Homo sapiens: one gene and its partners. The gene in region 1 interacts genetically with each later gene. Each region holds a gene or a part of one and is shown in the gene's direction. Other genes may lie near its edges. The genes, in order: ERH, RIT1, KRAS, FIP1L1, NUDC, GTF2E1 and CIT.

Region 1 (4,100 bases):
GGTAATTCTTATGATATGTTTATATTGCTAATTTATCTACTGCTTTAATGTTAAGTCTAACCCCTGGATAAAATGTGACTTTGCTCTTACGCTGAGGTTGGAAAAAAAGCTTAAGTTGAAACCATGCTTGTGATTATTATACTATTTCCCCTTTTGTTTCCTTTCATCAGCCCATCTGAGTTTTTATTAGTGACTTAAGAGCATTAAAGATGGAAAGTGACCACTGGAGACAGAAAACCTAAGCAGGTTTATAATTTAGTTGGGAAGAAAAGATAGAAAAGGAAAAGGAGGGCAAGGTAGCTTATACTGATTACTTGTAGGCAGTAAGTACGGTAGGACTGGGAGACTTAGGGAGACCGTACAGCAGAGTTGTGAATCCAGCTAGATACTATACTTAGACTAAGACATCAATATTTTTGTGGGAAAAGTATCCTAATGACTTTTTTTTTTCTTTTAAGAGATAGGGCCTCACTCTCCGATGCAATGGTGTGATCATGGCACACTGCAGTCTCAGCCTCCTGGGCTCAAGGAATCCTCCTGCCTTAGACTTCCAAAGTGCTGGGACTACAGGCATGCACCCGGCAAATTTTATTTTTTTGTAGAGACAGGGTCTTGCTATGTTGCCCAGGTTGGTCTCAAGCTTCTGGCCTCAAGTGATTTTCCCCCTCTCAGCCTCCCAGAGGATGAGGATTATAGGCATGGGATGCCATGCCTGGCCTCTCTAATTACATTTTAATAACTAGCAATCATTATTGCATTACAAATGGGGATTTTTTTTTATCATACTATGAATTTCTCAAATAGAAACTTATATTGAAATCATGTTTTCCCCTGCAGTCTCACACCATTTTGCTGGTACAGCCTACCAAGAGGCCAGAAGGCAGAACTTATGCTGACTACGAATCTGTGAATGAATGCATGGAAGGTGAGTTTAACACTAATCAAGGGGTAGAAAAATGTCTCATTTAGGAACTGGGTTTTTCCCCTCCAAATTTTTTTTTTTTAATAGTCCATCCACCCCAGGCCCTGCCTTTATCACTTCCAACCCTCCAAATTTATTGAATTGCTAATTTTAGGAGGGAAAGCAGATATTTAGGATGGACCATAATTATTGAACATTTTATTTATTTGTTTGTTTATTTATGTATTATTTGAGACAGAGTCTCGCTCTATCACCCAGACTGGAGTGCAGTAATGCGATCTCGGCTTACGCAACCTCCGCCCCCCAGGTTCAAGTGATTCTCTTGTGCCTCAGCCTCCCAAGTAGCTGGGACTACAGGCATGGGCCACCACACCCAGATAATTTTTTGTGTATTTAGTAGAGATGGGGTTTCACCATGTTGGCCAGGCTGGTCTCGAGCTCCTGACCTCAAGTAATCCGCCTTGGCCGGTTGAACATTTTAAACATTAATTATGTATATAGTATCCTCCTTGCTACAAGTATTAGGTGTTTTTTTTTTTTAAACTAATGTATATAATGAGTGACTTTCCAGAGCTGCTTGTTGTTTTATAAATATTCTCTTCTTATTTGTCACATGTTATTTTGTTACAGTATGGAAATATTTTACAGGTATCCCTTATATATTCTGGTTAAGCTCAAACACTATAGGCTTGTGTGTCTGTCTGTTTTTAATAGGTTGTTTTAATAGATTTAAGGGATACAAGTGTAGTCTTCTTATATAGATATATGGCATAGTAGTAAAGTCTGGGCCTTTTTTTTTTTTTCCTTAAGACACGGGGTCTTGCTCTGTCACCCAGGCTGGGGTACAGTGGTGATAATGGCTTATTGCAGTCTCAGTTTCCTGGGCTCAAGCAGTCCTCCTGCCTCAGCCTCCCAAATAGCTGGGACTAGAGGCACCTGCCGCCACACCTGGCTAATTTTTTGGTTTTTTTATAGAGATGGGGTCACTGTGTTGCACATGTTGGTCTCAGACTTCTAGCCTCAGGCAGTTCTCCTGCCTTAGCCTCCCAAAGTTCTGGGATTACAAGCATGAGCCACCGCGCCAACCAAGTCTGGGCTTTTATTGTAGCCATCACCTGGTGTACATTGTACGCAGTAGTGATTTTTCATCCCTCACCATTCTCCCACCTTTTGTAGTCTCCAGTGTCAGTTATTCCACTCTGTCTGTCCATGTGCACACATCATTTAGCCTCCACTAATAAATGAGAACATTAAATGTTTGACTTTCTGAGTTACTTCACTTGAGATAATGACCTCCAATTCCATCCATGTTGCTGCAAAGACATGGTTTTATTCTTTTTTTAATAGCTGAGTAGTATTCCATGGGATGTGTGTGCATGCATTCTCATACACCACATTTCCTTTGTCTAGTCATCCATTGATGGATACGTAGTTGATTCCATGACTTTGCTGTTGTGTATAGTACTGCCGTAAACGTATGAGTGCAGGTGTCTTTGTTTCTTTTTGTTTTTTGAGACAGAGTCTCACTCTGTCGCCCAGGCTGGAGTGCAGTGGTGCATCTCAGCTCACTGCAACTTCTGCCTTCTTGGTTCAAATGATTCTCCTTCCTCAGTCTCCTCAGTAGCTGGGACTACAGGTGTGTGCCACCACGCCCAGCTAATTTTTGTATTTTTAGTAAAGACAGGGTTTCGCCACGTTGGCCAGGCTGGTCCCGAACTCCTGACCTCAAGTGATCCACCCACCTCGGCTTCCCAAAGTGCTGGGATTACAGGCGTGAGCCACCACTCCAGGCCATCTACTCTAATTCTTAAAGAAGAACATGGCATTTTTTTCTTCATCTCTTTACAGATCCATTTCTCTGCTGACATTTCTGCCTGCTATTGATGTAGATTTTGTATGCAGGCTCTCTTAGCAAATTGTTACCTAACCTACATTATCATGTTTGGTCTTTGATTCTGCAATACTCTTATTTCTCAGGGCAGTTTCAGGGTTCTAGAAAAATTGAACAGAAACTACAGTTTTTCCGATATTACTCTCTTTCTTCACCCCTACACAATTTCCCCTATTATTAATGAATTTCACTGGTGTGGTGCATTTGTAACAGTGGTGAACCAGTATTCATTACTGATACATTGTCATTAAGTAAAGTTCATAGTTCATACTAGGTTTCATTCTTATGTCCTACATTACTGTGGATTTTCCCAAATGCGCAGTGTCATGTGTCCGCCATTACAGCATCACACAGAATGGTTTCACTGCCCTGCCCTAAACATTTCTTGTGCTCTACCTATTCATCCCCTCCTACCCCACCCTCAACCTCTGGGAACCATTGGTCTTTTTACTGTCTCCATAGTTTTGTCTTTTCCAGAATGTCATATAGTTGGAATCATTATCGTGTGTGGCTTTTTCTTAACTGGCTTTTTTTACTTAGCAATGTGCATTTATTATGTTTCCCCCATGTCTTTTCATGACTTGGTAGCTCTTTTTCTAAAAATTAAAAGTGGTGATTTATTTCCCATTTAAAAAACTAAAACAAAAAAATGTTAAAATAATTATTAAATAAGTTCTCACATGATGTGGTTGCCAAATGGTAATTTTATTATTCTTTTTTTTTTTTTCTTGTAGTAAATATTCCCCTGTAGATCAGAGCATTTTTTTCCTCCCCCCTTTTTTTTAAGAGCAGTTAAAGACTTTATTTAAGACCATGTTTTTAGAGCAGTTTTAGGCTTATGGGAAAATTGTTTGGAAAGTACAGAGCTCCAGCATACGCCTTCTTTCCTCCCCTTCTTAGTTTCCCCTATTAGTGCATCTTCTATTAGTCTGATTACACTTGTTGGGATTGGTGAATTAATATTCATAGATTATTATTAACTAAAGTTCGCAGTTTATGTTAGGGTTTACTGTATGTGTTGAACATTCTGTGGGTTTTGACATGTATAATTACGTGTATCTACCTTTACTGTATCATACAGAGTAGTTTCACTACCAGAAATCCCCATTGCTCCACCTATACCTCCTTCCCTGCCACCACCCCCAAACCCCTGATCTTTTTACCATATCTGTAGTTTTGCCTTTTCTGGAATGTCATGTTAGAGTTACGGAGTATGAAGCCTTTTCAGACTGGCTGCTTTAACCTAGCAATATGCTTTTTTTTTTTTTTTTTTTTTTTTTTTGGCGT
Region 2 (4,015 bases), on another chromosome or scaffold:
GTAGAGACAGGGAGTCACCATTTTGGCCAGGCTGGTCTTGAACTCCTGATCCTCAAGTGATCAGCCCACTTCAGCCTCCCAAAGTCCTGGGATTACAGGCGTGAGCCAGCACTCCTGGCCAGAAAGACTTAAATTTTGAGACGGAGTTTTGCTCTGTTGCCAGGCTGGAGTGCAGTGGCACCCTCTCAGCCAGCTAACTGCAACCTCCACCTCCCAGGTTCAAGTGATTCTCCTGCCTCAGCCTCCCGAGTAGCTGGGACTTATAGGCGCATGCCACCACACCCAGCTAATTCTTTTGTATTTTTAGTAGAGACGGTTTTACATGTTGGCCAGGATGGTCTCTTATTTCTTGACCTCATGACTCACCTGCCTCGGCCTCCCAGAGTGCTGGGATTACAGGTGTGAGCCACCGCGCCCGCCCGGCCCAGAAAGACATTTAAAAAGAACAGTGGTAGGCAGAGCTGCATGAGAACAATTTTCGTGTCAGTTTCTTCTAGCACCTGTGCTACGTAAATAGAGGGGAATATGGTTATAGTGGCTGCGCTTCAGTTCTGTATTTAACTCAAGGCCTCTGTTAACTCAGAGCTCTCTTTCCTGCCAGAGTGTGGTACATTTATTTAAAACAAGTTTTTGTGTGTCTTATACGTGTTTAAAATACATACAGAACTCTGATTAGGGAGTGTTGTGAACATCTGGTTTCTGAGAATGAATTTAGGTTTCAATAGCAAAAGTCATTGTGGCCGCTCCTTTAGGAAAGTCATTTTTCTCCTATGAGTAGTCATCCCCGGTAGACTTGACTGAAATCCTGTGTTTTAGGAGGATTTGGGGGGTGCCCCTGTCCTCCCTTCCTCTCATTACATTGGGTCAAATTAGTTTTGGGTTTTTTTTTTTCCCACAAGCAGCAAACAACCCTCGGTAAGTTGTTAATTTAAGTGTCCCTGCATGTCTCTTATCACGTACTCCCTTCCCTTTTGTGTAAATAATTTACTTTCTACTCGTGATTAAATACCCTTGTCTGTGAGTGCATACACCCTAGGTTGGGTAGGTGACCAGAGGACCTTCAGCGGTGGGTCCCGGAACTGGGTTTTAGGGACCTGGGAGGGGCGGGAAGAGGGCGGGGCAGGCTGTGGGCGTCACTGAGTGGCCCCGCCCCTCCTTCCGCGACTCGGGCGCCGGTGGCGCCATCTTACTCGGTTGCGGGAGGGGTCACAGGTCAGTGCCGGAGCCTCCGCGAGTGAAGGAAGACGAAGTGCGTGACCCGACCGGCTGTGGTGTTCCAGTCCCCACTGACCAGTAGGAGCAGCAGGGCGTCGGCTTGTGAGGTAGAGGGGTGGGGAGTCTGGCGGCGGAGCAGCAGCTGGGGGTGGGGAGGGGGTTCGGAGGAGAATGGGGAGGGGGCGGAACCTCTGGGTACCGCAGACGTGAGAGAACCCCTGCGGCCTAAGGGGCCGCATCCCTTTCTTCCCAAAACTTTCTCCTTGTCCCTACTGTGCCGAGACGTAAATTTATTTGTATCTTTTTATTTTTCTCTTTGGAAAAAGTAAAACCTGTGATGTGTCATGTGACTGAACTGTCTAGGAGGGAGGGTGAAGATGGGGGGGTTTCTTAGGGCCACCCGAAAGGGTGCAGTGGTGAGCAAGAGGGACAGGCCAGAGTAAGAGGGACAGGCCAGAATATGTATGGAAAGGTAAGGCACTGGCTTGAGGGCTGTCGCCGTGGTGTCTCCATCCTGGATTAAGCATTTCCTCCTCCTTTTCTAGGTGGCTTTTCCTCGGGGCAACCGAGGAAGGCCCCAAGAGGACAATGGATTCTGGAACTCGCCCAGTTGGTAGCTGCTGTAGCAGCCCCGCTGGGCTCTCACGGGAGTACAAACTAGTGATGCTGGGTGCTGGTGGTGTAGGGAAGAGTGGTAGGTAACATTTTCCATTTGACAGGAAGCATGGATGAAAAGTACTTAAATGACCAGATGGGATACTTGCTATCTTGCAATGTTAATACTTAAAATTCTCTCTGTGGGTCACCTTTGTGAGGATTTGACTTTTATTTCTTCTTTTGAAGCCATGACCATGCAGTTCATCAGCCACCGATTCCCAGAAGATCATGATCCCACCATTGGTAAGCCAGATCATCACTTATGTTTCCAAATATACCCCATAAAAATATCTTAATGAATATCAGTAGTTTCTAACTATTTATATTTTGAGGCTTTTTTGGAGTCTAATTCAGATTTATTTAGAAACAAGGGTATCAGCAGTTGGTAAGCAACTGAATATTTCTTTTTTTTTCAGACTTTATGTCATAAGCCATCTTTAGTCTTTGTCTCTTACTGAACATTAATGGGACAACTCTCTTTGTTGTATTTTTTTATGGTTGTATACAGGCCACTTAACGAAGCCTTTTCTTGCTGTCACTTCTCTAAGGGTATGACTTGAGACTCGCTCTGTAACTGTGAGTCAGCTGGTTTGAACTTCCACAAAAGGAAGCAGAGAAACAAGTAGAGCCAGGCTGCTGAACTCTTACAACCCAGACATGCCAAGCCTGGACATCTTGCACTTGGAGCTCTTGGTTTACTTCCTTATACCTTAAGTTCATTACGTAGTAATGTCTTCTCCCATGTCTGTCTGTTGTTTTTTTTTTTTTTTTGAGATGGAGTCTCGCACTGTCTCCCAGGCTGGAGGGCAATGGTGCGATCTCCGGTCACTGTAACCTCCGCCTCCCGGGTTCAAGCAATTCTCCTGCCTCAGCCTCCTGAGTAGCTGGGATTACAGGCATCTGCCACCACACCCGGCTAATTTTTGTATTTTTAGTAGAGATGGGATTTCACTATGTTGGCCAGGCTGGTCTCAAACTCCTGACCTCAAGTAATCCATCCACCTCAGCCTCGAAAAGTACTGGGATTACAGGCGTGAGCCACTGTGCCTAGCCCTCCGATGTCTTTTATGGTCCTTAACTCTTGTTGCAGAACGCTAATAGAGTAAAAAAGTCATTTTGTTTGCTTTGACTTTTTTATTTTTTAATTGCTAATCTCTACAAAGACTAAGAACATTACTGTCATTCCTAAACCATAAGGAAGCAGGTTTGATTCTAAGGGTTTATATCCTAATATGAAAGAAAAATGGATGTGGGAATGGGAGAGGGCACAGAAAGTCAGCTGTACTGTTATTTTCTTTTTTTGTTTTTTTTTTTGGAGACGGTGTCTCACCCTGTTGCCCGGGCTGGAGTGCGGTGGCACAATCTCGGCTCACTACAAGCTCCACCTCCCAGGTTCATGCCATTCTCCTGCCTCAGCCTCCCGAGTATCTGGGACTACAGGCGCCCGCCACCAAGCCCGGCTAATTTTTTTTTGTATTTTTAGTAGAGATGGGATTTCACCGTGTTAGCCAGGATGGTCTCAATCTCCTGACCTCGTGATCTGCCCACCTCGGACTCCCAAAGTGCTGGGATTACAGGCGTGACCACTGCGCCGGGCCTTATTATTTTCAGTATGTGACACTCTTTGCCATGATCCTAGTTCTCTAGGAAGGATTTCCATTGGGTCAGGCCTCTGCTGCTCTGTTTCCCGCAAAGCCAATAATGTTTTGTGGTGGCCCAGCTTTGATATGGTCATTTCATAGAGCACATGATTCCAGGGATGGGAAAAATAGAAAAAGTCTTGACTTTTTCATGTACTATATCAAATTTAGAACACTGTTCAGAGATTCAGGCCAGGCGCGGTGGCTCATGCCTGTAATCCCAGCACTTTGAGAGGTCGAGGCGGGTGGAGCACCTGAGGTCAGGAGTTCGAGACCAGCCTGGCCAACATGGTGAAACCCCATCTCTACTAAAAATACCAAAACTAGCCGGGCGTGGTGCTGGGTGCCTGTAATCCCAGCTACTGCGGGGGCTGAGGCAGGAGAATTGCTTGAACCTGGGAGGCGGAGGTTGCAGTGAGCCGAGATAGTGCCATCACACTCCAGCCTGGGGGATAAGAGCAAGCTTTTGTCTCAAAAAAAAAAAAAAAAATTGTTCAGAGATT
Region 3 (4,100 bases), on another chromosome or scaffold:
AGGTGCAAAAATGTAAATGTAAATCATTATCCAGCTAATATATATGTTGTATTTCCCTAGTAGGAGAGCATATGTACCTCTTCCTAGTTATACAAATTTGATATATAGTAAAGAAACAGTAAATTCTACTTCAAGTCATTTTGGGAGGATTAAAAACTGAATTTCTCTAGTTTGACCATTGTACAGATTTATCTGGCAATTTTACTAAAACCTGATTTATAGGTTAAACTTGGTGTATATCATATATCACTTTACTTTAGAGGAATTAAGATTTCACATAAATCCATTTCCAGGTTCCAAAGACCAGGAAGAGGCTTGGTTTTTGTTTTTCTTTTTACTGTCTTTACAGTCTCCTTGACTTTTCTTAGGAGAGAAGGTACTGAGAAAACATGATTCTAATATTTATTATTTTTTCTTCCAACATTTTCTTATGAAACATTTTCAAATACAAAATTGAGTTTTATTTAAAACATTTGCAAATATACTACCTAGATTCTACCATTGTTGTTTTATATTTGCTTTACTTACAACTTTTAAAAGATGCTTTTTATACCACTGAACATTTTAGCTTACATTTCACAAAGAAAAGAAAAAATTTAAGAGACTTTGCATAATGTTTTAAGGGGTTGCAGTAAAGAAGTGCTTCTTATATTTTCTTATGCATACAAATCAGCTGGGCTTATTAAAATCCAGATTCTAATTCAGAAGGTTTAGGTGGGGACCGAGTCTGCATTTCTAACAAACTCCTAGGTGGTATTTTTCTTGGTACTTGGACCATACTTTGAGTAGAAAAGCAGTAGAGGACATAAAAAGAGTCTTGTTAGTCCCACTTTGTTGCTGTCCACTTCTCATTTGATAATATCCTAAAATAGCTGTGTCTCCTTTTTGGTGGTTGTATGATTACTACCTCAGAAGTACTAATTGATTCTTGCTATTTGACCTTAATACTTTAATATAACACAGCATTCATATTTGATCAGAAAACTATCTGGCTTCCTTTTATAAGAGATTTTTAGGTTTTATACAGTTTTGTGGCCTTGGGTTTTTTTGTTTGATTTGTTTTTTTGAAGGTATATAATATGTAAGTAGATAAACAAATTTGATTTGTAGACATTTTTATGTGGATCATCTAATTAAAAATGGAGGGATACAGTATGAAAGAATACTTGTACTTCTTAACAGAGCACTCAACCTTTCTTTTACATCCTGTTTCACTGATGTTATTATGTAATTTATGTTGCTAAACTATAAATTAGATATTTAATTTCTGTTCTTTGATTTCCTTTTATTATTAAATGGACTTGTTGATTTGCCTAGAAATTAATTTGCCTTTCAAAAGTCTTATTAATCTTCCTCCGTTGAAATTAATTTGATATTTGCATGCTTCTGGAAGACTTTAAAGAGCTATTCCGAGTAACTGTAGAGATTATAAAATGAAATATGGGAATTTTAATAAATTTTACATCTCCAGTTACTGGTGAAAATGTCAAGTCCTCCTTTCTGCAGAGTATTTTGTTACTCATCTGTTATTCAGCTTATTTATTTATTTATTTATTTATTTATTTTTCTTTCTTTCTTGTTTTTTTTTTTTGAGACGGAGTCTTGCTTTGTCGCCCAGGCTGGAGTACAGTGGTGGGATCTTGGCTCACTGCAGGCTCCGCCTCCCGGGTTCACACCATTCTTCTGCCTCAGCCTCCCAAGTAGCTGGGACTACAGGCACCCGCCACCATGCCTTGCTAAATTTTTGTATTTTTAGTAGAGACGGGTTTCACTGTGTTAGCCAGGATGGTCTCGATCTCTTGACCTCGTGATCCACCTGCCTCGGCCTCCCAAAGTGCTGGGATTACAGGCATGAGCCACCGCGCCTGGCCCTTATTTGTTTTTTAAACAAAATTAGTGTGCATATCCTTGTTGTATTTTATCGGCAAGTTGTTTTATGCCCTAACTTTTGGGGTCTTGATCATGAGCCTAAAACACGTAAACACCCAAAAAGAATTATATTCCGGTTAAAGGAACAAAACATTCATTTAGAAGTTCTCATCCATGTAAATCAGAGGCTGGCAAATATTTTCTGTAAAGGGCCAAGATAGTAAATGTTTTAGGCTTTGAGGGCCACAAGTGGTATCTGTTGCATTTTTTTTTAATTATGACCCTTTAAAATGCAAAAATCGTTGTTAGCTTGTGCATAGTATAAAAATAGGCTGGCCGCATGCTGTGGCTCATGCCTGTAATCCCAGAAATGAGGTGGGAAGCCGAGGTGGGCACACCACCTGAGGTCAGGAGTTCGAGGCCAGCCTGGCCAACGTGGTTGAAACCCCGTCTCTACTAAAAATACAAAACTTAGCCAGGCGTGGTGGCGGGTGCCTGTTATCCTGGCTACTCAAGGGGCTGAGGCAGTAGAATTGCTTGAACCTGAGAGGCAGAGGCTGTAGTGAGCCCAGATCAAGCCAGTGCACACCAGCCTGGACGACCGAGCGAGACTCTGTCTCAAAAAAAAAAAAAAAAGGCTGTGGCTGCATTTGGTCCATTGGCTGTAATATGCTGATTCCTAATTCTCTGGGTAACTTTAGTGTTTGATTAGCTACTAGAAGTTAGGTTAAACTTTTGTATTTTACAGGCTAACTTTAATAATCTTAAAGTAAAACTTAACATAGTTCATGGAAAGGAAATAGAAATTTTACCCTAGTACTCTTTTTTTTTTTTTTTTTTTTTTTTGAGGCAGAGTCTCCCTCTGTCACCCAGGCTGGAGTGCAGTGGTGGGATCTTGGCTGATTGCAACCTCCTCCTCCTGGGTTCAAGCAATTCTTGTGCCTCAGCCTCCCGAGCAGCTGGGACTACAGGCACGCACCACCACACCTGACTGATTTTTGTATTTTTAGTAGAGACAGGGTTTCGCCATGTTGGCCAGGCTGGTCTTGAACTCCTGGCATCAAGTGATCCTCCCATCTGAGCCTCCCAGTGTGCTGGGATTACAGACGTGAGTCACTGTGCCTGGTCTCTAGTATTTTTTTTTTTTTTGAGACGGTCTCACTGTTGCCAGGCTGGAGTGCAGTGGCGCGATCCTGGCTCACTGCAACCTCCGCTTCCCGGATTCAAGCGATTTTCCTGCCTCAGCCTCCTGAGTAGCTGGGACTATGGGTGCACACCACCACGCCCAGCTAATTTTTGTATTTTTAGTAGAGACGGGGTTTCACCATGTTGGCCAATATGGTCTCAATCTCTTGACCTCGTGATCTGCCCGTCTCGGCCTCCCAAAGTGCTGGGATTACAGGCGTGAGCCACTGTGCCCAGCTGTACTTTTTAAGATAAGAATTGCAGGGTATATATTTTTACCAACTTAATAACTTATAATTTTAAAAAGCTAATTACTTGGCTAGAATATAATGCGTTACATATTCTTTACACTCAGTTCAGTCCATATCTGAAAGGCAAATAGAATTATTTTCTGCTAGTACATTGTGTAGTCCCTATGTTCCTAGTGTATAAGGACTGTTACCTAGTTCACATTTATCTGGGTTGTTGACAGATTTTCCTGGTCCCTTTGGACAGTGCATGGCCATGTTGGCAAAAGCTGTCAAAATTGAAACATTGACACCATGAGAATTGTGTGTTTTCCAGTCTGCTAAAATCAAAAGTGGGAGGGTTCAGTAAGGTGAATAACAGAAGCAGAGTTTTCGGGGTATCTGTTACTCCTCATTCGGCTTTTCTGCTCTCTGGGGGTCTCAATTTAAATATAATGTGAAAATTAGTTTTACGAACCTAAAAATGTTGAGTGATTCATTTCCTGGTTTTGTTGTTAATTTCTAGATATTTAAATTAATTGTTAGAAGAACCCCGTTAAAGAATGCTTTGCAAAACAACCTCCTTATGTGCTATGTCTCTGTTTAATAGTAGTTGAGTTTGTGTACATGAGATCAATATTTTGAACTATAGCTTTTTATGAGTTAAAAATTGACGGAACAGTTACTGTGCACTTGCTGTGCACCATGGTAGTCTCCCAAGTAGTGGTTTTTCTGCATTTCAATAGTACATGAGATAGGCTGTGGGTGGCAAGGTTTCTTGAGAAAGTGAGGGATGCACAGTTGGGTTTTAGAATACAT
Region 4 (4,100 bases), on another chromosome or scaffold:
GAGTCCATTGTTTTTACATTTTTCTATTTTAACATAAAAGAACTTGTTAAAGTTTCATCATGAATATACTTCTTTGCTAAAATACAGTTAATTGATTAGGCGAAGGTACATAGAAGCAGCAGTTTTTGATGCTGAATTTAAAGTGTTTTTATAAAAGAATTGAGTGCTAGGCCAGGCATAGAGGTTCATGCCTGTAATCCCAGGACTTTGGGAGGCCGAGGCGGGTGAATCACCTGAGGTCAGGAGTTCAAGACCAGCCTGACCAGCATGGTGAAACCTTATCTCTACTAAAAATACAATAATTAGCCAGGCATGGTGGTGGGCACCTGTAATCCCAGCTACTCCAGAGACTAAGGCAGGAGAATCACTTGAACCTGGGAGGTGGAGGTTGCGGTGAACCCAGATCGAGCCACTGTACTCCAGCCTGGGTAACAGAGTGAGACTCTGTCTCGAGAAAAAGAAAAAAAAAAAGTACTATAAATTCTTTGATTAGAATTAGAAATCCTTAAATTGTAATTTGTATCTGTACTTATTATTATTTCACTTTATTATCCAGACCTGAGTTTAGGTTTTTAATTTTTTTGCCTAATAAAAACAATATCAAAAGTATTTCTTTTTGTTCTTAATAGTGTTTTCAGGTTTCTAATTCTCCCTTAGGCCTTTTAGGCCAATGTTTGTCTCCAATTTTGTATTCTATAAACTGGACCAAGTAAATGGACTGTCATTGACTCATTGAGCGCATAAAGAATCTTACAGAAAGATTGGAAGGGAAATACATTGAAGTACGAATTGTGATTTAGTTACGATAGGAGAATAAGAGTCAATGTGTTTTGTTTTTCAAATTGGCTGTATAATGTGGTTATTATAGCTTATGCATTGGAAACATAAAATACATTAATTTCACTATAGTTCATTAAGCAACCTCATCTGGAATCAACCAGTATATACAAAAATATTGTTAAATATTTTATTAGTAGAGTCATTTGTTTTCAGAAGTCATTTCAGGAAGCTTAAAGCCAATTCAGTTATTGTCATAGTCAGTTTTGTATTATAATAATGACTACCCATGTAATTTTAAAATCCTAGCACCTTTTTAGGGAACAGAGTAAAGAGGCTGATTTTTCATGTTAGGGGTGGATATTCTAAATGTGCTCCTCATTCTCATTTGGGAAAGTAAATAATTACTTAATGAGAAAGTTGGGCTTATACTGTAGTACTAGTAGGCCTTTACTATCTGCATGATGCAAAAGGAACACATAAAATTGTAATAATTGCATGTTCATTAAATGTTATGTAAAATTATTTGTATTTGCAAGTTATAGAACAACTTGAAGCAAATGACAATTTTTTTGGATTATGGATGGGACCTTTTTTTGGTAGAAATTGCACTCAAATATTAAATATACGTGGACTTCCATAGTACCTTACTAAACTTTATTTCTTATAGCAATTTTCAGTTTTATGCATTGTAATTATGTTTATACATATTTATTACCTTTACACACTTCAGATTTCTATAGAGTAGAAACCATTGAATTCAAAACTCTTCAAAAAAACAAGAAACTGTGATTTATGGAGTTTTCTATTCCTCACATTGCCTTAAATACAGTTAAGTGTGCAGTAAATGGTTATTGACTAAATAAACTGAATGTTATTTAGTTACAGTTGTCTCTGAGGGTTTTTCCCCTTAGACATTTGATTATGAAAATTTTCAAATGCTCACAAAAGTTGAAGGAATTGACATGTGAATGCTCATTTACCCATCACCTAGATTATACAATCTACATTTTGCTTTGTTTGCTTGAACTCATATCCCTCTATGCGTTTACCCATTTATCAGTTGATTTATTTTTTATTCATTTTATGCATTTCGAAAGTAAAGTACAGGCATTTGTGAAGAGTGTAAAGTTGTTTAACCTCTATATTTCAAGGTATATCCCTTGAAAACAAAGTCAGTGAGAAAATGAAATTTGATAAACATTTACTTATGCACAGCGTTTTCAGAAGCAAATTTAAAGAACAAACTGTGTCCAAGGACTGAATTGATTTATTGTAAATTGTTAGGAAATACAAAATAGCATTTTTTTTTTTTTTTTGCGTAACATACCTTTGTTACAAGTTCATTTTATATGTAAGTAAGGTATGAAGAAAAGCAACTCTTAAAGTAGAAATAATTTATCTTGGAAAGTAGTTTGTTACCTATCTCTGTGAGATTGATCCATTTATGTACTCAATAAATAATTTTTAAAGACATAATTTATCTGGCACTGTGTTAAGTAGCAAAGATAATGTGCCTTTATCAAACCATCTGTGATCATTCCATTATTATTATTGTTTTTACATTTACCATGCTACAAAAGAACCCTTGGTAAAATCACCATGAAATTTCATGGAGTTAACAAATTAGATAAAGTTACATGAAAGCAGCAATTTTTTATCTGTGAATGTATTAATTGATGAGAATACAGGAAGTTATTATTTTCCAGAGGTAGTGAGGATGCCAGACATGTGAGTAAATATTTTCAGTGCAACATAAGTGCTAGAATAGAAACATGTACAAAGTGATTCGAAAGGTTTGAGAGGAGAGTTGCTAAAAGCCTACAGGTGTTGAAGAGAAGATCCCAGAGGTAACATTTGAACTTGTTTGAATAATTTTTGAGATGGGAGACAGTGGTTTTTAGGTGGAGGACACTGCCTAACAATAAATATATTAGATGCGTGCCTTGGAGGAAGTACATGGCTGGAGGATAAGGTAGATGAAAAGAGATGGTTGAAATCACTTATGGAAGGAGTTAGGATGCTTTTGCTATGTCTTTGTAGACCTTGCAAGCTTGTCCAATGCACCTTATTTTGTTGCTGTTGTTGTTCTGTTTTGCTTTGTTTTAGTCTTTTAGCTGCCCAAAGCCATGGTTTTTAGTTTCTGTCTCCAGTGATAAGTGGAAAAGAGGGGTGATAAAGGGGCTTTACTGGCCTAACCAGAAACAGAAACTAAGGACTCATGACTGTATTCTCTCCCTTAGACACCCCTAATTAGGTTTTTAGACAGGTCATATCATTTGAAAAGATAACTCTAGCATCAGTAGTTGAGATGGGTTAGATAGAGAGACATTGACTAATAGATGTGAAGTAGTTGTCCAGGTGAGATGATAATCTAGACTAAGGCAGCAGTAGTAGAGAGATGAATGGGAAAATAGTACATTTGAGTATTAGAGAAACAGAAATATAGTCAGGCATGTGGTATACACCTGTAGTCCCATGGACTTGGGAGGCTGAGGTAGGAGGATTGCTTGAGCCTTGGAGTTTCAGGCCAGCCTGGGCAATATAGTAAGATCCTGTCTCAAAGAATAAATAGAAACAAATAACATGGGTAACTGGTTGGTTGTGGATGGAGGAGGAGATAAAGGGCTCAGTGACTTAAAGATTTCTAGAGCAGTTAATTGGGTACAGGTGGGTGCTACTGCTCCCACCTCCCACAAAACAGATTCATTTGACATGTTTATTTTGGAGTTCCTATAGAAAGTCCAAGTATAGGATCTAGCATTTAGAGTGGTCTGAGACTTCATAGGGATCTATTGGACATTATATCAAATTTGCCTCTGCAATTTTTCATACCACTAAGCTTCTCTACACAGGCTTCTCTACAAAGGCTTGTGGCTTAAAAAAGAAAAATGATGTTTTAAAAGGCAGAATGGGGAATAGAAAGTAGCTAGGTGGAAAGCGAAGAAGCTCATTTATTGAACACTTGTGGCTAAGCCTTTTATAAAAATACTGTTTTATTCTATACGGTCCTGTAAGAGAACAGTTTAGAGAAAATCCTTGATTTTTGTACATTTGTAGAAAAATCATGTACATCATATGTAGATACCGCTAAGTCACTTTTTCTGAATTTGGATTGTTAAAATGTAAACATCGTGAAGGCAGGAACCGTAATTGTCCAGCTCCTCATACTTTTTCCTCAGCCTAGAACCATACTTGACATGGTTTGGTGCTCAGTAAGCATTACATGAATTAATCAGCCTATGAAATGATTATTTCAAGTTGGTGACGATAGTACTGCTTGACAGTAGTAATATTTGGTCCACTTTGTAATTTTTGCATTT
Region 5 (4,570 bases), on another chromosome or scaffold:
TGGCTCATGCCTGTAATCCTAGCGCGTTGCGAGGCCGAGGCAGGTGGATCACTTGAGGTCAGGAGTTTGAAACGAGCCTGGCCAACATGGTGAAAACCCCTCTACTAAAAATACAAAAAAAAATTAGTTAGGCGTAGTGGTGCCTGTAATCCCAGCTACTTGGGAGGCTGAGAATCACTTAAACCTGGGAGGCAGAGGTTGCAGTGAGCTGAGATCGTGTCACTGCACTCCAGCCTGGGCAACAGAGTGAGACTTGGTCTAAAAAAAAAAAGAAGAATAGATAGACTAGAATATACTGTAGAGAGATGGGAGGTGAGGGAGTAGAAAAACAAGCAAACAAGTTTGCTGCAAATGAGAGCTGAAAATTGGAGAGGTAGCAGCAGAAGAAAGTGGGGCCATGGAATAATAATATAAAAACAGGGCTGGGCATGGTGGCTCACACCTGTAATCCCAGCACTTTGAGAGGCTGAGGCAGGAGGAGTGCTTGAGACCAGGGTTTGAGACTTAGCCTGGGCAACACAGACTCCATCTCTACCAAAAAACAAAAAACAAAAAACAAAAAAAAAAAAACAGCAGGGCGTGGTGATGTGAGCCTGTAGTCCCAGCTACTCTGGAGGCTGAAGTGGGGAAGATGGCTTGAGTCCAGGAGTTCAAGGCTGCCGTAAGCCAAGATGGTGCCACTGCACTCCAGCTTGGGTGACAATGCAAGAACCCCATCTCTAAAAACAAACAAAAAGATATTAAAGCGTGTTTGTAAATTGAAGGGAAGAAGAAAGATATTTGTGATGCATAAGCTAAAAAAAGGGATAATTAACAGGGATAGAGTTCCTGAAAAGACTAAGATGATGAGATTCATTGCACAAGTGGAGGGATTAGCTTGGATGGCTGGGTCCTGTCCCCGCATTAACAGAAGTGAAGGTCAATTTCAGCACCTGTCATAATTTCCTGGGCCCAGTGCAAAATGAAAATGTGGGTCTCCTTATTCCAAAATTATTAAGAATTTCAAGACTATAACAGAAGGCCATGAAATCAAGCGTGGAGCCTTTCTAAGCCTGGGTGCTGTGCGACTGCAATTTGTACTCCCATGAAGCTGGCCCTAGTCAAGTACGCAGTGAGGTCGATGAGGAGGAGGCTGTCCTGTGGTAAGTCCCTTCTAGGATTGGAAGAGATGAGTAAGGCTACTTTCAGCTTCACTGCTCTACAAGCTGGGGGGGTCGCTAGCAAGGGAGAGGGGCAAAACTTGTCCCTTTTTAACTTCCAACCCTGCCAGATTTGAGTCCAGGGCTTTCTAGAAGTCTCCACGGCATCGGGTGACCATAGCAACTCATGCCAAACTCTCGGGCCCACGGCTCCGCCTACCGCTTCGTGGACGCGCTTGTTGATTGGCTCCGAATGTCGACCAATGGTCGGCGAAGCGGGTTGCTTGCCGCACGGTCAATGGCCGCAAACCGGGAGGAAGGCGGGAAGAGAGGAGGTGGAGGCGGGCCTGGGCAGCCGCGCGCGTGCGTGTTTCCGGCTCCGCTGCGGAAGGCGGACGACTAGAGTCGTTGGGCCCGGCGCGACCCGCAGGAGCGTAGAGAGCGCGGGACTAGAGTGCAGAGCTCCGGGACGTGGATCGGAGCCGGCGCGATGGGCGGAGAGCAGGAGGAGGAGCGGTTCGACGGCATGTTGCTGGCCATGGCTCAGCAGCACGAGGGCGGCGTGCAGGAGGTAACGGCCCGCGCGGCGTCGGCCCACCCGGCGGCCTTGGCCACGCTCCTTCCGCCCTTCTCTGCCTTCGAGGGCTGAGACCCACCCCAGCGGCTCGCGGGCTTCTGGGATGCCCCTACATTCTCACTGCGCCCAGCTTCCGGCCTGGCCACCCGCCAGCAGGTCTCACCCGGTTCGCATCAGTCCCGGGCCCCCGGCGCCCCTCAGTAGTAGCAAATTATCGCATCCCTGAGCTTAGGATCCCCCTTTAGTTTCACATATGCCCCCACCCCCGTTTCCACTTTGATGGCGGCTTCCAAGGAGCATCCCTTAGTAAGAACCGTCGCAAATATCGTGATTTGGATCCACCAAGGCTTGGGGCGAGCCGTCGAATGTGTGTGGTAGGGGAGCGGGCTGATGTTAGCACGTGGTCTTGTTAGGCCTTGAATGGGGGAATAGGAGGCCTGTGTTCACGATTAGTTTCCACCACCTACCAACTTGGAACCTTTACATCTCTCCAAGCCTGAGTTTCCTTATCTGTGAGACAGCTGCGAATACCGGTTTCCAGAGAGTAGTTAAGAACCGTAAGTTCTCAGTAATAAGGCTTTTTCATTCAACAAGTATTTGTCGTGTGATTGATGTGTGTCCCACACTCGACAATAAGGGCCAACTGTTACAGATTCTGGAGTTGGTTTTTTTGGAACAAACACAAAGTTAACGGTAGAAAAGTCTGTCAGGATCAGAACTCTCATTCTCAGAGCCAGAGAAGTGGCAAGGATTTGCCTAGATCATGCAACATGGTTCTCACCTAGACAGGTCAGTGTGCTTCCCAGAGTCCATGGCTGATTGTGTCTTACTGGAGGTAGGTTTCCATTGAACTTTCTATTCCTATGTAACCTAGGTGTCTGGTGACCAAGGACTTCTAAGCCCTTTGTGGTGGGGAGAGTGTTTCTCATTTGCAAGTGTGAAAAGCCTTCCTGTCTCCATTCCTCTAAACTGTTCGCACAAAACTGGATTTGGGAGCGAGTTCATTTTTGAGCAAATTGAAAAACTGTCTAGAAGCAAGAACGGAAACCATTGAGATATGTTCTAGCATCAGATTTAATCAGATTTAGACCCACTCTTGGGCAAATAAAGGGTTTGTGTGTGCTGACCTTGAGTCACCACTAGATTGTTTCATTCAGCAAGAATTTTACTGATTATGTACCTTTAGCCATATCTGGTGCCCAGCATTGCAGGTGGCAGACAGACTAAGCCATGGTTCATGGTTCCTATTTGTAAGGTGTTTACCCTCTGCCAGTGGGTCTCTTGCTCTGTGCCATACATTGCTAAAGGCCTCACCTCCTTGACCTCATGATCCTCACCAGGTCCCTAGAAATAGGTACTGCATCTTATTCCTGTTGTACAGAGTTAAGAAACTTCTGCAAAGTCAAAAGGTAATATATGTCCATCTGATACTCAAACCGTTGGCTACACTTGTACTCCAGCCAGAATTAATCCATCTTATCCTCCTTTGAAGTGGCTTCATTTGCTCTCCTCCTTCTTGCTTTGACCCGGTAACTTAGCCAGTGTCTTTTTTTTTGTTTAGACAAGAGTCTCTCACCCAGGCTGGAGTGCGGTGGCACGATCTTGGCTCACTGCAACCTCTGCTTCCCGGGTTCAAGTGATTCTCTGCCTCAGCCTCCCAAGTAGCTGGGATTACAGGTGCCCACCACCTGTAATCTAGCTAATTTTTGTGTTTTTAGTAGAGACGGGGTTTCACCATGTTGGCCAGGCTGGTCTTGAACTCCTGACCTCAAGTGACCCGCCCACCTGAGCCTCCTGAAGTACTGGGATTATAGGTGTGAGCCAGTGTCTTGATGGGCTTTTTACTTTCTGGAGAGGAAAGCTGGGCCCAGGCTTTTCATGCCCTGGATGCAGAGGAGTGTTCCATACGCTTAGGCTGCTTCTAGCATCACAAGGAAAGTGAAAGGCGCACACACACACAGGATATGAGAAATCTGCTTCATGGTGGAAGTGACTAAGAGAACCTGCTGGGGAGATAATCTCCTCAGTTGGGAAGCTCAGAGGAAAAATAGTCAAGTCCCAAGTTCCCTCCTAGACAAAACAAGTTGACTTGTGTGCAGTTGAAGGGCTCCCAAATGCAGCTCTACTACTTTAATCTTCTCCCCCTCTTTCAGCTTGTGAACACCTTCTTCAGCTTCCTTCGACGCAAAACAGACTTTTTCATTGGAGGAGAAGAAGGGATGGCAGAGAAGGTAAGTGTTGGAAACCACTGTCCTTTGGGCGGCTCTGTCTCTTCAGAAGAAAAGCTCACCTGGCCTTTCTTTGGCATAATAGTAACTTTCAGCAGAAGCGAAATGCCAAAGGTGAGGAATTGGGGAAGGGAAGGAAGCTGTCATTTCTTCAAGCTCCACTCCTTGCTCAGCCCTCTATCTACCTTATTTCCCATGACTTTTGCAGTTCTACAAGAGGGGCAGGTGTTAACTATCCCCATTGAGGAAATTGGCTCAAGAGAATTTTGCACCTTATCCAAAGTCTTGAGCTGAGCTGTGGGAGAACCAGGGTTGAAACCAGTCTGTTGTAAACCTGTCCTCTGCCCCGACACAGTGCCTCTCAGTTCCTTTTCCAATGAGGAGGTTTTATTTATTTATTTATTTTCTGAGACAGAGTCTTGCTTTGTCACCCAAGCTGAAGCGCAGTGGCGCAATGTCGGCTCACTGCAACTTTCGCCTCCTGGGTTCAAGCAATTCTCCTGCCTCAGCCTCCTGAGTAAGTGGGATTACAGGCGCCCGCCACCACACCTGGCTAATTTTTGTATTTTGATAGAGACGAGGTTTCATCATATTGGCCAGGCTGGTCTCGAACTCCTGACCTCATG
Region 6 (4,100 bases), on another chromosome or scaffold:
TGTTTTCCTATCAGACTGAAATTGCAGTCTAACATCATTTTTCAACCACCCTACTTCTCTTATGATGATCTAGAATGTCCTGTTCCCTTACCCCTTCATCTTCTCCTTCATCTTTTATCTTCTAAACTGTCTCTCAAAAAGGTTTACCTTCTCAATAAGCTTTTCCTAGTGTCCTCAGCTAGAAGTCACATTCCTTCTTTGAACTCCAAAACATTTATGTACTTTATTTTTTGCACTGATCCCTGATTGTTTTATCTCCAGACATCTTTCTTCCCTACTAAAGCTTCTTGCTGACTGGTTCTGTCTGTGTATGCCACCACCACTCTCTCAGTAGCGTGGGTGCCTGCTTGCTACATAGTATGTGCTGGGTTTCCGTGTCCTCCTGCCCCTTGCCACTTGCCCCTTCTGATTTCAGGAAAACTGATTTGCATTTTTACAATGCGTAGTGAAATGTATAAAAAATGCTGCTGGTATATTAAACTGGTCTTAAGTCATTTTCTGTAAAATGTCAAATTTCTTACTTTTCTTGCATTTTTTAGGGTCCCAGAAGAAAAATAAGAAATTCTACATTTGGCTTTGACAGGCTTCTCATTTATAACTAATGTTTTTGTGATAAACACAGGGCTCAGAGATGTCAGGCTAGCTTTTCCTTTTGTAATATTTGCTAGATGTGGTATTTATTGGGAGACTATTCTCCATGGGTCTCTCACATGTTATGCATGTCTTGGCAAGCAGAGATACAGACTGACTGCTTTTTTTCCTGGACTATCATTTTCAAGGATGTTTATATAACGAGCAGCCTTGCAAGACAGAGATAGTATTTCTCTTCAGAGCAAAGAGCAGGTTTGCTTATGGTCCAGTATAAAAAGTGTCTCCTTCCAGAGCATGTTTACATAGAGTTTATAGTAAGTAAGGATAATGCCACCCTCCAGTGCAAAGAATGGGCATGCTTATGCCCATTATAAAATATTTGAGTTCCTTTTAAGCTCAGGCTCTCTTTCCTGTAACACAACCCATTGCATGTGTAATTGTTACCTGGCCCTTCTATCGCACCCCATGGAAATTGGGGCATGGGGAACTGGCTTAAATACTGACACTGGCTACTGCTATTTCCTTGAGTAGTGAAGTTCTTTGTCTCTGACCTGGGGTCTTGTGTCTTCTGCCAGTATCCATGAAACTGGCAGAATAACTTGTTAGCTTACAAGTAGGGTAAAATCTCAGACCCTTCACAGTTCTTAGTAATAATGTTAAAGCTGCTGTTTTCATACCTGCAAAATCAGCCCTTCTGTAAGTAACTCCTGTTAAGTTTGGATGAGATTAGAATTTAGGTGCCTTATGACTATATACTTTATTTTTCCCCCTATTCTTTTTCATGAAAATAAATTACTCGAGTTAAAGGACTGTCATTCTGAGATTGTCCTTCTGTGAAATAATGATATTAGTGTTGTTCTCTTTCTCTCTTTTCCCCAAATAAAAGCACTGCTGTTTTATGAGGATGAGCTACACTGACAAGCATGTTGATTTGTTTACTTAAAGCTGAAGTTTGGAGTACATATTGTCTTAAAATGAGAAATGGGGTATTTGGGAGGACATTTTTTTAAAATTCGGGTATAACATGACTTTTTAATGATAAATTAGATAAATAATAAAACATGTTGGATAATGATAATGCTAAGGGAAAAGAAAATGAAAGAGGATACGATTGTTTGGGTGGACAAGACAGTTGAAATTTTAGATAATGTTGGCTACAGAAGGCCTTACTGGTGGCTTCTGAGTAAAGAACTGAAGTAAGTTTGGAGATGAGCCATGTGATTTTCTGGAGGGAAGGCATCTGGGTAGAGGGCACAGCAGTGCAAAGGCTCTGCAGCAGAGTGTGCCTGATGGGAGACATTGAGGAGGCCGGTTTGTGATGCTTTGAAAACAGATAATGAGAGGGTTGGAGTATTAACCTTTGTCTTAGCTGTGTTTCTATACTTTACCCCAGAGCATTTGCTTTTATGTTTATATATTAATCACCTTTCCATTTGAGAAATGAGATTCCTTTCTTTAAAAACATTTTGAAAACTACAGAACTAGATAACTTGTCTTCCAAACTATTCTTAGTTCTCATTGACAGTCTCTGTAGGTGCTTATTTTTCAACAGTCAATTTAAGTCCCAGTCTCACATTGGTGTGTTTTTTAATTCAGCAGGTATTCGAGAGCTATATTCAACCCTACTTTATGTGGTTTATTTTTAAGCCCCCACATGATTATATTCCTTGCTTCTGTTGAAGAGAAGAGGCTGAGACAGCTTGGAACAGTTGGAGAATAATATAAGATAACATTCTACCTAAAACCTTTCTAGCCAAGGTTGCTTCTTACCCTTTGTTACCAAATATAAAAGCTAGTTTTCAACTCTTGTTGGCCTCTTAATATTAGGACCATACATTTCCTTGAAACACCATCCTGTCACTCTGGTTGCACCATTTCTCTTTCTCAAGGATTCCTCATTCCTTGAGTTTATGCCTTAACTGCTTCTTCTCACTCTCCTTAATCTCTTCGGATGCTTCTATCTACTATATGGCTTCAGTTACCACCTATAGGTTGTTGATTCTCATATCTAAATTTGTAGTCTAAACCCCTCTCTTGAGCTGAATTGTTAGCATTTGTAATTAGTTGGCTTTTTACATATTCATTTTTATATTTAAAGCAATTTGATATCTTTTACCTAAAAAAAAAAAAAAAGCTAGTTCTTCCTCTCTTTACTTTGGTATAATAGTATTCTTGTCCAGTTGATTAAGTTATAATCTTTATGTTCGTGACCATTAGTCAAAAGCTATCAGGTACGCACCTGTAGTAAACAAAGTTAGGTTTATTGATGCTTTCTGCAGCAAGGGAAGCCACATACCATGGGGAAACCATGAAATGTCGGTAAGATGATGTTGGACAGACTTAGAGAATGTGGGCTTTTGTTGGGTAATTTTGGGGAGGATTCAGGGAAGTGATGAAGGTTTCCTTTGGATTGGATGCTGTGAAGAAGTGGGGATAATTCTATGATTGGGTATCTTCATAAATCTTATCTAGGAGGTGACAAGAACAGAGTGACGCTAAAACTAAATGGTAAAGAAGCAGCAGTCACTTGTGCAAGATGGGATTTTTTGTGGTTTGCATGGAGTCCTTGCTTTTGTCTGTTCTCAGACGCAATTCCACAGTGGCTTGGGTTTGCCTCACTTCCATCATAGTCTGATGTTAGTGATCTGTGAGATCTTGTTTGACAGAAAAATGCCACAGTCTAGCTGTGAGTGCTGAGCCACCTCCTAGCTGTGAAGGGCTGCATTTCTCTCTCTTTCTCACTTATTTGGGATAGATGTAGATTAGGTGGCATTTAGACAATAAGAAGATGTATTTTAGGGTATTTGAACAAATAATTTACATGCTATTGGCTATGTGTGAGGGGCAGTAAAGAAAATTATTATACTGGTAATGTATCAGTAGGATCTAGTGTTATGTTGAAGTAGAGATCACTTGGTTGTTTGTTCTTTATGTATCAATCATACATGGGGCCTTTTATAGCTAAATGTTTGAGTACTTAACTATTTGCCAGACACTAAGTACTTACATGTTCCCTTTTAATCTTTCAAGTAAGTTGAGTCAGAAAGGAAGGATGCATATTCCTGTCTTTGGGAATAAGAACCAAACTGGAAATCCAGGTGTGGCTAGTGGTGTAGACTGTTAAGTAATGTTTAAGAGTGTGAGTTTTAGCATAATAGATTGAATTGATTAGATACAAATGGTTAATAAATTTTAAAAAATAGCCTGTGACAATGTTCAGGATGACTAGAAACTCTTGGTTTTAGGTATTTATTTGGCTTTCCCCATAACGTAGGCCCAAATGTGTAATGTGAAAACAAAAAAGACTAAAGCTGCCAGGAAAGGGTACAAGTTGTGGTGGTAAGCTGTAAAGAATTTGGCTTTAAGTTAAAATAAATACATATTAGAAATATTGTGATTAAAAACTATGCTGAAGTTAGGGATGAAATTACTTTGAATACATCAAAAATGATAGATGGATAGATATGTGATGAATAGCAAAATGCTAATTGTAGAATCTAAATGGTGGT
Region 7 (4,100 bases), on another chromosome or scaffold:
CTAGGGAAGTGTCTTTTCTAGGAACTCTGCCACCCCCTCATCCTATCCTCCAGCCGGATGTTTCTTCTGAGTTCAGACATTTTTCTTTTCCATCTTTCTTTCCCCAGGAATAACAAACGAGGACAGCAAGGCTGGGACAGGAAGTACATTGTCCTGGAGGGATCAAAAGTCCTCATTTATGACAATGAAGCCAGAGAAGGTAAATTAATAATTCAGGGGGAAGGTCATTGCACGTGGCTAACCCAGGTCTCCCCAGTGCTGGCGCGAAGGCTTTGTTTTTTGGACTGCCTTGCAAGCCTTCTACGCTTTTCCATTTTTGAAACTTACAAACCAAATGACTTCTCTAAAGGTTATTGGTGCGATACTCACATCTATAGGTCTCCCCCCTGAAGAACCCGCAGGGCGCTGCCCTGAAGATTCCACCTGCTAATACACCTTCCGAGAACTTCTGCCTCAGTCAACTAACCCATAAATCCGCATCGTCATCAGAAATTTGACTGTGCTACTCATCTGACACACTTTATTTTTTTTTATCTTCCCTCTCTGCCTTCTCTGCACACCTCTGTCCCTTCCTTGTTCTCGTGCGCCTCTCTTTACACACGTACCCTGTCTCTCTCTCCCTTGCTGTCTCTCTCGCTCTCTCTTCTCCCCTTGTTCTTGTTCCTGTTCTTTTGTTTTTCTTTCTGCCCTTCCTCTTTGCACCAAGCTGGACAGAGGCCGGTGGAAGAATTTGAGCTGTGCCTTCCCGACGGGGATGTATCTATTCATGGTGCCGTTGGTGCTTCCGAACTCGCAAATACAGCCAAAGCAGGTGAGGAGGAGCCGGAGGAGCCCCGCCCTGGAGGTGGGCCGGGCTTGGCCAATCAGCAGGGACAGAAGGGGTGGTACAGGGAAGATTGGCTCTGCAAAGGAGGCCCATCTTCCTCCGCTCCCCGCCTTGGCGGTAACTGGGATTTGCGTGGTTTGGTGGGCATCTTTGATCTCTCAGGCCCGTCCCTCCCAGTGGGAACGGGGGAAATCCACACCCAATCCTGTGCTCTCTGAAATCTCCTAGATGTCCCATACATACTGAAGATGGAATCTCACCCGCACACCACCTGCTGGCCCGGGAGAACCCTCTACTTGCTAGCTCCCAGCTTCCCTGACAAACAGCGCTGGGTCACCGCCTTAGAATCAGTTGTCGCAGGTGGGAGAGTTTCTAGGGAAAAAGCAGAAGCTGATGCTGTGAGTATGAAAGCGGGCCCTGGAGGTTGTCTTTGTAAAGGGGGCTGACTTGGTAACTGGTGTTAACGACGAGAATCCCATTGGCCATTTTGATTCCCCTCAGGCTCTCTCTCTGAGGGCTGATGGCTCTAGACTGTGTCATGGCCAGGAGTCTGGTGGTGATGAAGGCACAAGCACCAAGGTAGCTTGTGTGGCATCATGATCCATTTAGAATGTGGGAATCAGGGATGCGGTGGCTCATGCCTGTGGTCCCAGTGACCCAGGAGGCCAAGGCAGGAGGATCACTTGAGCCCAGGAGTTTGAAACCAGACTGGGCAAGATAGCAAGATCCCATCTCTTAAAAAAAGAGAAAGAAAGAAAGTTAGCCAGGTGTGGTGACATGCACCTGTAGTTCCAGCTAGTAGGGAGGCTGAGGCCGGCGGATTGCCCAGGAGTTTGAGGCTGCAGTGAGCTACGATTGTGCCACTGTACTCCAGCCTGGGCAACAGAGCGAGGCATGGACTGTAAAAGCAAAGGAAAAAGAATGGGGGAATCGGCATCAGTAGCCTACTCTGGTGGCATTGTAGACCTTGGTTGTGGTGATGCAGCAGCAAATGTACTTATAAGGAAATCCTCTCTCCTGTTTACTCAAATGAGTTTGTCTGGTTTGAAGGCTTGAGTTAGAAGCACTTTGGCCACGAAGCAGCACAATAGGCTGCCGGCAGCTGTGTCCCCTCCAGGAAGGCTTTTCATAAGCATCTCAGTTGTTTTTGCAGTATTTGCTCTTCCGTAGGCAGGTTTGGAGTCCTACTTATCCTTAAGCTGTTAGAAACGTAGGTGTGCTGTGATTGGCATCACCCCACCTAAAATGTTCCAGGATACAAACAGTGCTCATTGCTCATTGACGTTTGCTCCAGCGAAGACCAAACAGCTCTTTTCAGACTCTTCACTCCTAATAAACACTTTATGTGTTAGCAATTGGCAGATTCTTAACCACAAGCCTCCTGAAAAGGGCTTTACTCAGTGGTTAGACCTGTTTGGATGACTTGTTGGTCGTTTCACACGTGAGCTTTTACTGAAATCCTTGTTAATATGTGTACAATAGGCCCGCGACTGTGTTTCTTACGAGCTTCTGCCTGCCTGGGTTCAGGTAAAGAGATGCAGAGGCGTGCTGGCTCGCTGCTAACACGGCGCCTTTGCACTTCTGCTGCAGCCTTATGGGGGAAGGAGTCTTTCATGTGTCTTATTAACCCTGCGCAGGTGAAATCTCCTTAGCTTCAGCTTATTTCTTATTACAGAATAGCTTTCCATGTCTACTACCCTCCCTTATTTCTGCATCCCAGCCAAATTATAACTCAGATGCTAATTAACAGCTGCCCCAGAGATACCAATAGCACTCGCATTTTGCATTTGGAGCTCAGATCAAAATACGGGCTGAGCTAAGAGCATATGTGCGTTTCTGAGCATTTCCAGGAATAACTTGGCCTTAACCTTCTCTTGGTTTCTCTGGATGGTTTGGTCATAAACAGATCAGCCTCACGATGTCTTCTGTTTTTCTTTTCTTTCACCTATGAAAAGAAACTGCTTGGAAACTCCCTGCTGAAACTGGAAGGTGATGACCGTCTAGACATGAACTGCACGCTGCCCTTCAGTGACCAGGTAATGCTTGCATGGGCACGGCCAGCTGGTGTCTGGTTACAGCCACACCCCATCAAGAAAGAAAGGGCTGTGGAGGCCTTGTTGCTCTTACTAGAGATTGTTCTGGTGACGTGACCGTGCTTATGTTCTGCCTTCGGACTTCTGCCCTTGCAGGTGGTGTTGGTGGGCACCGAGGAAGGGCTCTACGCCCTGAATGTCTTGAAAAACTCCCTAACCCATGTCCCAGGAATTGGAGCAGTCTTCCAAATTTATATTATCAAGGACCTGGAGAAGCTACTCATGATAGCAGGTGTGAGGCCAAGGACATGGTGTTTTTTCTTTACTTTCAAGGGAGCCAATATGTTGAAGCCACGTTTCATGCTCGTAAAACACAAAATAGTAGAGAGGAGCCGTTGTAGCTCTTATCTCTGTGTCCCCATAGATGCCCAAGCCTCAGCTAATGGACCCCCTCTGTCCAGATTCAGTTCCCTTCCAGTATCCAGTTTAGCACAGTCTGACATTCCCAAAGAACATCCCACTGTTAGGCCAAGTGAAGAGTGCTAAGCCTCGAAGACTATCTAAAGCCAAACCCTTTGTCCTGATTGCAACGAAACCACCGTGGGCCCTGACCTTCTGAGAGCTTGCTTGCTCTGTTAACTCTGTGATCTCTCTCAAGTCACCATTTGCTAATATTTTGTCATAATTTTTTTCTCTGTCTTCTTAACACACACACACACACACACACACACACACACACACACACACACACACACTCTCTCTCTCTCTCTCTCTCTCTCTTTCCTGAACCATTTGAGAGTTAGTTGCAGGTATGACGCCAAGTTCTTCAGTATATCAACCTAAGGATTGAAGACATTCTGTCACATAACCAGGGTACAGTTTATTTCTCTCTGTCTGTGTTAGTGACATTATTTTTAAAGGGGAAAAGAGTAATATATCGATTCAGTGTTCAAAACAACAACAGTTAGGTCTTGTTTCAGGCATGGCTGGATCCGGGGACTGACATACTATGGACAAGAACTGGCCTTTCTTAATCTCAGCTCTTTTTCCTCCGTCTCTTCCTCTCTTCCTTATTTTATTCTTTAGAGCAGTTTTAGATTCACAGCAAAATTGAAAGGTACAGAGAGTTCCCATATACCCCCGTTCTCATATATGCATAGCCTCCCCCACTACCAACATCCCCCACCAGAGTGATACGTTCGTTAGAGTCAGTGAACCTACATTGACACATTGACAGTGAC

The links.
Region 2: changes in ERH (region 1) and RIT1 together harm fitness more than expected from each alone (negative genetic interaction), as found in Homo sapiens cells (one large-scale study listed by BioGRID).
Region 3: changes in ERH (region 1) and KRAS are lethal when combined (synthetic lethality), as found in Homo sapiens cells (3 studies listed by BioGRID, with this or other methods).
Region 4: changes in ERH (region 1) and FIP1L1 together harm fitness more than expected from each alone (negative genetic interaction), as found in Homo sapiens cells (one large-scale study listed by BioGRID).
Region 5: changes in ERH (region 1) and NUDC together harm fitness more than expected from each alone (negative genetic interaction), as found in Homo sapiens cells (one large-scale study listed by BioGRID).
Region 6: changes in ERH (region 1) and GTF2E1 together harm fitness less than expected from each alone (positive genetic interaction), as found in Homo sapiens cells (one large-scale study listed by BioGRID).
Region 7: changes in ERH (region 1) and CIT together harm fitness more than expected from each alone (negative genetic interaction), as found in Homo sapiens cells (one large-scale study listed by BioGRID).

Annotation. Positions count from the first base shown.
Region 1 is NC_000014.9:69,391,650-69,395,749, reverse strand, and holds part of ERH (enhancer of rudimentary homolog), read left to right. Parts: intron 1-837; coding exon 838-925; intron 926-4,100. UniProt on the Homo sapiens protein: May have a role in the cell cycle.
Region 2 is NC_000001.11:155,908,550-155,912,564, reverse strand, and holds the start of RIT1 (GTP-binding protein Rit1), read left to right. Parts: upstream 1-1,215; 5' UTR 1,216-1,322; intron 1,323-1,646; exon of another isoform or gene 1,647-1,679; coding exon of another isoform or gene 1,680-1,687; intron 1,688-1,760; coding exon of another isoform or gene 1,761-1,803; coding exon 1,804-1,909; intron 1,910-2,058; coding exon 2,059-2,115; intron 2,116-4,015.
Region 3 is NC_000012.12:25,219,640-25,223,739, reverse strand, and holds part of KRAS (GTPase KRas), read left to right. Parts: intron 1-3,865; exon of another isoform or gene 3,866-4,100. UniProt on the Homo sapiens protein: Ras proteins bind GDP/GTP and possess intrinsic GTPase activity. Plays an important role in the regulation of cell proliferation.
Region 4 is NC_000004.12:53,383,958-53,388,057, forward strand, and holds part of FIP1L1 (pre-mRNA 3'-end-processing factor FIP1), read left to right. Parts: intron 1-4,100.
Region 5 is NC_000001.11:26,920,220-26,924,789, forward strand, and holds the start of NUDC (nuclear migration protein nudC), read left to right. Parts: upstream 1-1,523; 5' UTR 1,524-1,629; coding exon 1,630-1,710; intron 1,711-3,869; coding exon 3,870-3,947; intron 3,948-4,570. UniProt on the Homo sapiens protein: Plays a role in neurogenesis and neuronal migration. Necessary for correct formation of mitotic spindles and chromosome separation during mitosis. Necessary for cytokinesis and cell proliferation.
Region 6 is NC_000003.12:120,766,488-120,770,587, forward strand, and holds part of GTF2E1 (general transcription factor IIE subunit 1), read left to right. Parts: intron 1-4,100.
Region 7 is NC_000012.12:119,709,302-119,713,401, reverse strand, and holds part of CIT (citron Rho-interacting kinase), read left to right. Parts: intron 1-107; coding exon 108-199; intron 200-706; coding exon 707-811; intron 812-1,054; coding exon 1,055-1,224; intron 1,225-2,308; coding exon of another isoform or gene 2,309-2,353; intron 2,354-2,781; coding exon 2,782-2,862; intron 2,863-3,015; coding exon 3,016-3,151; intron 3,152-4,100. UniProt on the Homo sapiens protein: Plays a role in cytokinesis. Required for KIF14 localization to the central spindle and midbody. Putative RHO/RAC effector that binds to the GTP-bound forms of RHO and RAC1. It probably binds p21 with a tighter specificity in vivo.